2 separate regions of the Homo sapiens genome follow, and region 2 is linked to region 1. The links come from fine-mapping of genetic effects on gene expression. A gene starts in region 1. The other region holds a variant in brackets. All regions are shown on one strand. Distances are from middle to middle.

Evidence for each region. PIP is the estimated chance that this variant, and not a neighbour inherited with it, causes the effect.
Region 2: its variant is the best candidate, but not a certain one, in a credible set for the expression of ACTN4 in whole blood (INTERVAL, PIP 0.67).

What each region holds. Positions count from the first base shown.
Region 1 is chr19:38,645,206-38,650,540 of GRCh38, forward strand. It overlaps ACTN4 (actinin alpha 4), which reads left to right and starts at 2,444. Exons shown (of 21, transcript NM_004924.6): 1 at 2,444-2,702. The coding sequence starts at 2,541. RefSeq lists silencers at 2,284-2,473, 2,704-2,783, 3,967-4,165, 4,124-4,418 and enhancers at 4,124-4,418, 5,047-5,126.
Region 2 is chr19:38,750,992-38,756,362 of GRCh38, forward strand. No RefSeq gene overlaps it. Among named protein-coding and RNA genes, the nearest start is that of CAPN12, 9.2 kb to the left of the region's middle. The variant A/G (reference allele first, on the strand shown) is at 2,490.

The sequences.
Region 1 (5,335 bases):
GTGAAGACAAAGAGGCATTAAGGATGACCGCAAGGTCTGTAGCCTCAGCAACTGCAAGGCTGGAGGTGCACGAATTGAAGAGGGATGACTGTGGGATGGGATGACCAAGCTTGGGGGGAAGATCAGGAACTCTATTTTGGATATTTATTATTATTATTATTTGAGATGGAGTTTCGCTCTTGTTGCCCAAGCTGGAGTACAATGGTGCAATCTTGGCTCACCACAACCTCCGTCTCCCAGGTTCAAGCTATTCTCCTACCTCAGCCTCCTGAGTAGCTGGGATTACAGGCATGTGCCACTATGCCTGGCTAATTTTGTATTTTTAGTAGAGACGGAGTCGTTGGCCCGGCTGGTCTTGAACTCCTGACCTGGGGTGATCCGCCCACTTCGGCCCCCCAAAGTGCTGGGATTACAGGCGTGAGCCACCACACCTGGCCGGATATTTATTTATTTATTTTTATTTTTATTTTAGACGGAGTCTTGCTCTGTCGCCCAGGCTGGAGTACAGTGGCGCGATCTCGGCTTACTGCAGCCTCTGCCTCCCGAGTTCCAGTGATTCCCCTACCTCAGCCCCCTGGGTAGCTGGGATTACAGGTGCATGCCACCAAGCCCGGCTAATTTTTGTATTTTTAGTAGAGACGGGGTTTCACCATGTTGGCCAGGCTGGCCTCTAACTCCTGACCTCGTGATCTGCCTGCCTCGGCCTCCCAAAGTGCTGGGATTACAGGCATGAGCCACTGCGCCCGGCCATTTATTTTTAATGTAAACATTTTTTTGTAGAGATGAGATCTTGTTATGTTACCCAGTCTGGCCTCAAACTCTTGGGCTCAAGCACTCTTCCAGCCTTGACTCCCCAGAGTGCTGGGATTGCAAGAGTAAGCCACCAGTGCCTGGCTGAATATTTAAATTTAAGATGCTTCCTGATGCAGTGGCTCGCACCTTTGTTTAAATGTCTGCCTTCTCCATGAAGCCTACCTGAGTAGTTTATTTGCATTCCAGCCCATGCTTGATTTTTCTCCAAATACTCAACACCTTGGAATATACAATACTACCTATTTTTTACTTTTATGTATATTTTTGAGACAGGATTTCGCTTCTGGAGTGCATTGGTGTGATCACAGCTCACTGCAGACTGGAACTCCTGGGCTCAAGTGATGTCCCTTCCTCAGCCTCCTGAGTAGCTGGGACTACAGGTGCACACAGCCATGCCCAGTGAATTTTTACATTTCTTGTAGAGACAGGTTCTTGTTATGTTGCCTAGGCTGGCCTTGAACTCTTGGGCTCAAGCCATCCTCCCGCCTCAGCTTCCCAAAGTGCTGGGATTACAGGTGTGAGCCCCTGTGCCTGTCTACATATTTTTTAAAATTTTGAGTGTTGAGGCCAGGCGCAGTGGCTCATGCCTGTAAGCCCAGCACTTTGGGAGGCCGAGGTGGGCGGATCACCTGAGGTCGGGAGTTTGAGACCAGCCTGACCAACATGGAGAAACCCCGTCTCTACTAAAAATACAAAATTAGCCAGGAGTGGTGGCACATGCCTGTGATCCCAGCTACTCGGGAGGCTGAGGCAGGAGAATAGCTTGAACCTGGGAGGCGGAGGTTGCAGTGAGCCCAGATCACGCCATTGCACTCCAGCCTGGGCAACAAGAGCGAAACTCCGTCTCAAAAAAAAAAATTTGTGTGTTGGTTGGGCGCGGTGGCTCACGCCTGTAATTCCAGCACTTTGGGAGGCTGAGGCGGGAGGATCGCTTGAGCTCAAGAGTTCAAGACCAGCCTGGCCAACATGGTGAAACCCCGTCTCTACTAAAAAAATACAAAAATTAGCCGGGTGTGGTGGAGCATGCCTGTGTTCCCAGCTACTCGGGAGGCTGAGGCAGGAGAATTGCTTGAATCCGGGAGGCGGAGGTTGCAGTGAGCCGAGATCGCGCCACTGCACTCCAGCCTGGGAGACAGAGCGAGACTCCGTCTCAAAAAATAATAAAAATAAAAGTAGATTTGTGTGTATGTGGCTTCCTTTACTAGAAGGTAGTTTCATGAAAGTTGGGATTTTTTTCTGTTTTTAGTGCCTGCGTAAAACATAGTCTGGCACAGAATAGGTGTTCAATAAATATTTGTTGAATTTGTGTCGCTGAATGGGAACCCGGTGCAGTGCATTCCAAGCCTGAGCTGGTTCAGGTCCGATGGCGGGGCCTGCCCTTATGAATCATTCATGATCTGGCCCCGCCCATACGCGAACGACGCGCGCGTTCACGCCGGAGAGGGGGCGCGGCTCGCCCCCGGGCTGAGTCGGGCGGCCAGGAAGCGGGACTCTGCGCAGGCGCCAAGCTCCGGAGCGCGGCCTTGGTGCCTTTTCTGGTTTGGCAGGCGCGCGCGCGCGGGAGGGCGGCAACCTCGGCGCTGTGCGCAGGCGCGGCGGGCAGTGCGCAGGCGCGGGCGGAGGGCGGGCTGAAGCAGCTGAAGCGGCGGTAGCGGCGGCGGCTCGGGCAGAGGGGCGGGAGCTGAGGCGGGAGCGGACAGGCTGGTGGGCGAGCGAGAGGCGGCGGAATGGTGGACTACCACGCGGCGAACCAGTCGTACCAGTACGGCCCCAGCAGCGCGGGCAATGGCGCTGGCGGCGGGGGCAGCATGGGCGACTACATGGCCCAGGAGGACGACTGGGACCGGGACCTGCTGCTGGACCCGGCCTGGGAGAAGCAGCAGCGCAAGGTGCGCGGCCCGCGGGCCGGACGGGCTGGAGGGGCTTTTCTGAGGGGGCCCGGGGAGGGGTGGGAGGTCCTGAAAGGTAACTGGAGCGTCTGTGATGGGAACGGGGGGGTCCCGAGAAGGAATTGGCGGGTCCGGGAAGGGAATTGGAGTCCTGAGGAGGAATCGCCGAGCTAGAGGAAGGAATTGGGAATCTGAAAAGAGAATTGGCGGCTGGGTGGGGAATATGGGAGTCAAATAAAAGGAATCGGGAAGGCTGATGAAGGATTTGGAGGGTCTGGGCGTGCCATTAGGGGAAACCGAGGAGATGACTGGGCAGGCTGAAATGGAACTGGGATCCGAGGCGGGCTTGAAGGGTCGGAGCATGGGTTGGGGGTGCTGGGAGGAGAATCAGGGGAGGCTGAGAAGGGAATTTCTGGGTCTGGGAAGTGTGAGGAGGAGCTTGAGTGTGGAGGGGTTGGTTATTTGGAGAGCAGAAAGATCTGAAGGAGATTGGAATTGGGGGAGCCTCAGGTTGGGGGAGTTATAAAGGGGATGAAGAATCAAGTGTGAGGATGGAGTGGAGATTGTGGGGTCTGAAGACGGGTGGGAAGACTAGGGAGGCTGGGAAGATGAAAACAGGGGCTAAGGGTAGAATTGAGCATGAAAAGACATGGGCTTAGGGTGTGAGGAGGGTAGAGGTGCCAGGACTGGGGGTCTGAGGAGGGTGGGGTGCGGAAGGAAGAAGTTAAGGGGCCCGTGAATCAGACGTTTTTGAAGGGGGTGAGATTTATTTGTGGTGCCCTGTTCCAAAGGGGAGAAGATTAAGAGATAGGAGGAATAATAAGAGGAATTGATGAGGGATGGAGAAGCCGAAGTAGAGGGGATACGGAGAGTGGGGATAATTTGGGGAGGGATTTCTAAAGAATTGATGGGAAGCTGAAAAGCTAAAGCGTTGGAGAGAATGAGGAAGTGTAGAGGGAGAAGGTGAGATCGGTGGGAGGGAGGGTGAGCTGGAATGGTGGATAATGGGAGAGAGGTTCGTTTAGGAAAATGAAAGTCTCATTAGAAAGGGAATGCGTAATGGATAGACTGAGAAAGGAATTTGAGGAGGGGGTGCTGGCTCCTGGAGGTGCAGTCCCGGGACTGGAGAGCGTGTGTGTGTCGTGCAGGCAGAATGAGTTTGGGGAGGAAGCGTTGAGAGTGTCCAGGAAGAATTGTGTCTTTTTTGGAGAGACCGGAGGTAGGTGAAGGGATCCTGAAGCAGAGACTGTGTTCAGGTGGCACTGTTTTTTTGGGGGGCGGGGGGGGCAACTTGGTAGGGCCCCACAGCAGTGAAAAGGTGATCAGAAGTGGAGTGGGATCCCCGAGCGAGGTGTCAGTGTCTGTGGGGGGGGGATAAATCCAGTGTGGTTGAGGGGGGAGCTCTGAGTGTGTGCAGGAAGAGCTAAAGAAAGGAGCGTGGTGAGTGGGTGTGTGTGGGGGGAAGGGGTTGTTCAGAAGTTTTGTGCGTGAAATGGGTGGGAGGTACTTGAAGTTGGAAGCATTTCGTGGGATCTGGAGATCTGGATTTTCTTTCCAGATTTGTTACTGATTCGCTCTGTGGCCTTGGACAAGACCCTTGAACTCTCCGGGCAGTTTTGTTATCTGCAAAATGCAAAGGGATCCGAGGGTTCCCTGCGGTGATTCTGTTAATAAAGAGGGATGTGTGTAGAGTTGGGACTTTGGACAGGGCTCTGAAGGTTTGGGAGAGTGAGTTTGGTGGAGATTTTTCAGGAACAGGCTACAGGGCTTTGAGTGGTGACCTGGCAGAGTGGGGAGTGACTGGAAGCCTCTCGAGGGCGCGAGTTGGTGGCCAGGAGCTTGGCACAGGCAGCCTAGCCCAGGCTGGAGGGGAAAGGGTGGGAAGGGTGGAAGGAGCAGCTGTTCCAAGGCAGCCTGAGGTGGGGCCGGGCATAACCTTGGGTCCATTACCAGCGTTGCTTGAATTTCCTCATCCGTAGTAACTGAGGGGCATGGCAGTGGCTTGGTGGGAGGGGTGTCCTTATCCGTGGCCCCACCTACTGCAGGATGGACAGGTTGCGATAGTTGGCATAAATTCACTTTTTGAGGGGAAGGTGAGATCTGTTCTGGAGTCTCAACAATAATTTATTGCCTGAGGCAGTGCCAGGTTGGAAAAGGTTGCCAAGAGACCTGGAAAGTTGGGAGGGAGCAGGGGCCACAGTGGTGGTTTTGAGAATGTCTAGGCTTTGTCTTCTGCAGCTGAAGGTGCTGGAGAAAATAAACCCCTCCCCCTTTTTTCTCAGGTGATAAGGGTGGGGGGACCTTCCTTTTCTCTCCCTTCCTGTCTTCTGCCACTCCTCAAGTGACTCCTTTTGCGAGCCGGGTTTCACTCCCTCCCGAGAGTTAGGGTGTGGGCTTTGTTCGTGGTTATAGTGTCCCTTGCCTACAGGGTGAGGCTGGGGCACCATTCAGGCCCTGGGTGGAAACCAGGACTCCCCAGAACCTCCAGGCCTTGCTGCCATGTGTCATTCTCTTACCTCCCAGCTCCCTTCCTCTGGGGCCGGGCAGGTTTGAGGGAAAAGGGTGGCTCACAGAGTCCGCTAATACCATCTGCTTTCGTGTCTCAGCCAGAGCCAGATTCTAGTACCTCCTGC
Region 2 (5,371 bases), 110 kb after region 1:
ATACAAACTTGACAGTAGTTCCAAATAGCCAGAAAACAGCACTTTCAATTTTTCCATCCTACAAGATCTAAATAATTCTTATCATAAAATAGGCAAATGGTGTGAGGTGCCTGACATCCAGGCATTCTTTTACACATCAGGCTCTCCCTAGCCTCTGTTCCCAATGCAACTCGTCCCAAATCTTCCTTCTTTCCCTCCCACCTGTCCCCTCAGTCCCAACCCCAAGTGTCACTGAGTCTTTCTAATCTTCCTTTTCTACAGACCTATCTGACCTCTCCCCTCCTTGCTAGGCTGAGCTAGGTCCCAATTCTTCCTCAGCCTCCGCTCCTCCACCCTATAATCCTTTTATCGCCTCCCCTCCTCACACCCGGTCCCCCTTACAGTTTCGTTCCGTGACTAGCCCTTCCCCACCTGCCCAGCAATTTACTCTTAAAAAGGTGGCTGGAGCTAAAGGCATAGTCAAGGTTAATGCTCCTTTTCCTTTATCCCAAATCAGATAGTGTTTAGGCTCTTTTTCATCAAATATAAAAATCCAGCCCAGTTCATGGCTCGTTCGGCAGCAACCCTGAGACACTTTACAGCCCTAGACCCTAAAATGTCAAAAGGCCGTCTTATTCTCAATATACATTTTATTACCCAATCTGCTCCCGACATTAAATAAAACTCCAAAAATTAAATTCCGGCCCTCAAACCCCACAACAGGACTTAATTAACCTCGCCTTCAAGGTGTACAATAATAGAGGCAGCCAAGTAGCAACATATTTCTGAGTTGCAATTCCTTGCCTCCACTGTGAGACAAACCTCAGCCACATCTCCAGCACAAAAGAACCTCCAAACGCCTAAACCGCAGTGGCCAGGCGTTCCTCCAGAACCGCCTCCCCCAGGAGCTTGCTACAAGTGCCAGAAATCTGGCCACCAGGCCAAGGAATGCCCGCAGCCCAGGATTCCTCCTAAGCCGTGTCCCATCTGTGCAGGACCCCACTGGAAATCGGACTGTCCAACTCACCTGGCAGCCACTCCCAGAGCCCCTGGAACTCTGGCCCAAGGCTCTCTGACTGACTCCTTCCCAGATCTTCTCGGCTTAGCAGCTGAAGACTGATGCTGCCCGATTGCCTCGGAAGCCCCGTAGACCATCACGGACACCAAGCTTTAAGTAACTCTCACAGTGGAAGGTAAGTCCGTCCCCTTCTTAATCAATACGGAGGCTACCCACTCCACATTACCTTCTTTTCAAAGGCCTGTTTCCCTTGCCTCCATAACTGTAGTGGGTATTGACAGCCAGGCTTCTAAACCTCTTAAAACTCCCCAACTCTGGTGCCAACTTAGACAATATTCTTTTATGCACTCCTTTTAGTTATCTCCACCTGCCCAGTTCCCTAATTAGGCCGAGACACTTCAAATTATCTGCTTCCCTGACTATTCCTGGATTACAGCTGCATCTCATTGCCGCCCTTCTTCCCAATCCAAAGCCTCCTTTGCATCCTCCTCTTGTATCCCCCCACCTTAACCCAAAGGTATAAGATACCTCTACTCCCTCCTTGGCGACCAATCATGCACCCCTTACCATCTCATTAAAATCTAATCACCCTTACCCCGCTCAATGCCAATATCCCATCCCACAGCATGCTTTGAAAGGATTAAAGCCTGTTATCACTCGCCTGTTACAGCATGGCCTTTTAAAGCCTATAAACTCTCCTTACAATTCCCCCATTTTACCTGTCCTAAAACCAGACAAGACTTACAGGTTAATTCAGGATCTGCGCCTTATCAACCAAATTGTTTTGCCTATCCACCCTGTGGTGCCAAACCCATATACTCTCCTATCCTCAGTACCTCCCTCCACAATCCATTATTCTGTTCTGGACCTCAAACATGCTTTCTTTCCTATTCCTTTGCACCTGTCATCCCAGCCTCTCTTTGCTTTCACTTGGACTGACCCTGACACCAATCAGGCTCAGCAAATTACCTGGGCTGTACTGCCTCAAGGCTTCACAGACAGACCCCATTACTTCAGTCAAGCCCAAATTTCATCCTCATCTGTTACCTATCTTGGCATAATTCTCATAAAAACACACGTGCTCTCCCTGCTGCTTGTGTCCGATTAATCTCCCAAACCTCGATCCCTTACAAAACAACAACTCCTTTCCTTCCTAGGCATGGTTAGTTCGGTCAGAATTATTACACAAGAGCCAGGCCCGCACCCTGTAGCCTTTCTGCCCAAACAACTTGACCTTACTGTTTTAGCCTAGCCCTCATGTCTCCGTGCAGCGCGTGCCGCTGCTTTAACACTTTTAGAGGCCCTCAAAATCACAAACTATGCTCAACTCACTCTCTACAGCTCTCATAATTTCCAAAATCTATTTTCTTCCTCACACCTGACGCATATACTTTCTGCTCCCTGGCTCCTTCAGCTGTACTCACTCTTTGTTAAGTCCCACAATGACCATTGTTCCTGGCCCGGACTTCAATCCGGCCTCCCACATTATTCC[A/G]GATACCACACCTGACCCCCATGACGGCATCTCTCTGATCCACCTGACATTCATCCCATTTCCCCACATTTCCTTCTTCCCTGTTCCTCACCCTGATCACGCTTGATTTATTGATGGCAGTTCCACCAGGCCTAATCGCCACACACCAGCAAAGGCAGGCTATGCTATAGTACAAGCCACTAGCCTGCCTCTTAGAACCTCTCACTTCCTTTCCATTGTGGAAATCTATCTTCAAAGAAATAAATTCTCAGTGTTCCATCTGCTATTCTACTACTCCTCATGGATTATTCAAGCCCCCTCCCTTCCCTACACATCAACTCGAGGATTTGCCCCCACCCAGGACTGGCAAATTAGCTTTACTCAACATGCCCCGAGTAAGATAACTAAAACACCTCTTAGTCTAGGTAGACACTTTCACTGGATAAGTAGAGTCCTTTCCTACAGGGTCTGAGAAGGCCACCACAGTCATTTCTTCCCTTCTGTCAGACATAATTCTTCAGTTTAGCCTTATCATTCCCTTCTGTCAGACGTAATTCCTCAATTTAGCCTTCCCACCTCTATACAGTCTGATAACAGACCAGCCTTTATTTGTCAAATCAGCCAAGCATTTTTTCAGGCTCTTAGTATTCAGTGACAGACTAAAACACACCTCACCAACCTCAGCCACCAACTTAAAAAGGACTGGACAATATTTTTACCACTTTCGCTTCTCAGAATTCAGGCCTGTCCTCAGAATGCTACAAGATACAGCCCATTTAAGTTCCTGTATAGACACTCCTTTTTATTAGGCCCCAGTCTCATTCCAGACACCAGACCAACTTAGACTGTGCCCCCAAATAACTTGTCATCCCTACTATCTTCTGTCTAGTCATACTCCTATTCACCGTTCTCAACTACTCATGCATGCCCTGCTCTTGTTTACACTGCCAGTTTACACAGTTTCTCCAAGCCATCACAGCTGATATCTCCTCGTGCTATCCCCAAACTGCCACTCTTAACTCTTGAAGTAAATAAATAATCTTTGCTGGCAAGGCTATGCTGAACCTCCTTAGGCACTCTCTAATTAGATGTCCTAGGTCCTCCCAATTCTTAGTCCTTTAATACCTGTTTTTCTCCTTCTCTTATTCCGTTTAGTTTTTCAATTCATACAAAACCGTATCCAGGCCATCACCAATCATTCTACACGACAAATGTTTCTTCTAACAACCCCACAATATCACCCTTTACCACAAAATCTTCCTTCAGCTTAATCTCTCCCACTCTAAGTTCCCACGCCGCCCCTAATACCGCTGGAAGCAGCCCTAAGAAACATCACCCATTATCTCTCCATACCACCCCCAAAAATTTTCACTGTCCCAACACTTTACTACTATTTCATTTTATTTTTCTTAATATAAGAAGACAGGAATGTCAGGCCTCTGAGCCCAAGCTAAGCCATCATATCCCCTGTGACCTGCACGTACACATCTAGATGGCCGGTTCCTGCCTTAACTGATGACATTCCACCACAAAAGAAGTGAAAATGGCCTGTTCTTGCCTTAACTGATGACATTGTCTTGTCAAATTCCTTCTCCTGGCTCATCCTGGTTCAAAAGCTCCCCTACTGAGCATCTTGTGACCCCCACTCTGCCCTCCAGAGAACCCCCCTTTGACTATAATTTTCCTTTATCTACCCAAATCCTATAAAAACAGCCCCGCCCTTATCTCCCTTCGCTGACTCTTTTCAGACTCAGCCCGCCTGCACCCAGGTGAAATAAACAGTTTTATTGCTTACACAAAGCCTGTTTGGTGGTCTCTTCACACGGACGCGAGTGAAAGTAAAACTGCTGAAAACAATTCAAAAAGGGCATTTTTTTTTTTTTTTGAGGCAGAGTCTCACTCTGTCGCCCAGGCTGGAGTGCAGTGGCACAATCTCGGCTCACTATAAGCTCCATCTCCCGGGTTCACACCATTCTCCTGCCTCAGCCTCCCGAGTAGCTGGGACTACAGGCACCCACCACCACGCCTGGCTAATTTTCTGTATTTTTAGTAGAGACGGGGTTTCACCGTGTTAGCCAGGATGTTCTCGATCTCCTGACCTCGTGATCCACCCTCCTTGGCCTCCCAAAGTGCTGGGATTACAGGCGTGAGCCACCGTGCCAGGAAAATGGAAAATTTTAAAGGAGCAAGTGAAAAACAGCTCATTATGTACAGGGGAACAATAGAATTAATGGCTAGATTCTCCTAGGAACAATGGAGGCCAGAAGGCAGATGAATGATTTATTCAAAACACTGAAAGAAAAATAAAACTGTCAACTGATAATTCTATATTCAACAAAACTATACTTCAAAACAAAAGGCAAAAGAAAATCATTCCCAGATAAACAAAAAGAGAATTCCTGACTAGCATATACCTAAACGCAGGGAATACTCAAGGAAACCCCTCACACTGAAAATGACAGTAGACAGAAACTCAAATCCACAGGAAGAAATGAAGAGCCCCAGAAATGTATTTTTCTTTTCTTCTTTTAATTTATTTTAAAACATAAGGTCAGGCTGGGCACGGTGGCCCACGCCTATAATCCCAGCACTTTGGGAGGCCGAGGCAGGCAGATCATGAGGTCAAGAGATCGAGACCATCCTGGCTAATGTGGTGAAACCCCGTCTCTACTAAAAATACAAAAAAAATTAGCCGGGTGTGGTGGCGGGTGCCTGTAGTCCCAGCTACTCGGAAGGCTGAGGCAGGAGAATGGCGTGAACCTGGGAGGCGGAGCTTGCAGTGAGCTGAGATTGCACCACTGCACTCCAGGCTGGGCGACAGAGCAAGACTCCATCTCAAAAAAAAAAAAAAAAAAAGAAAAAAACCATATAAGGCCGGGTATGGTGGCTCAAACCTGTAATCC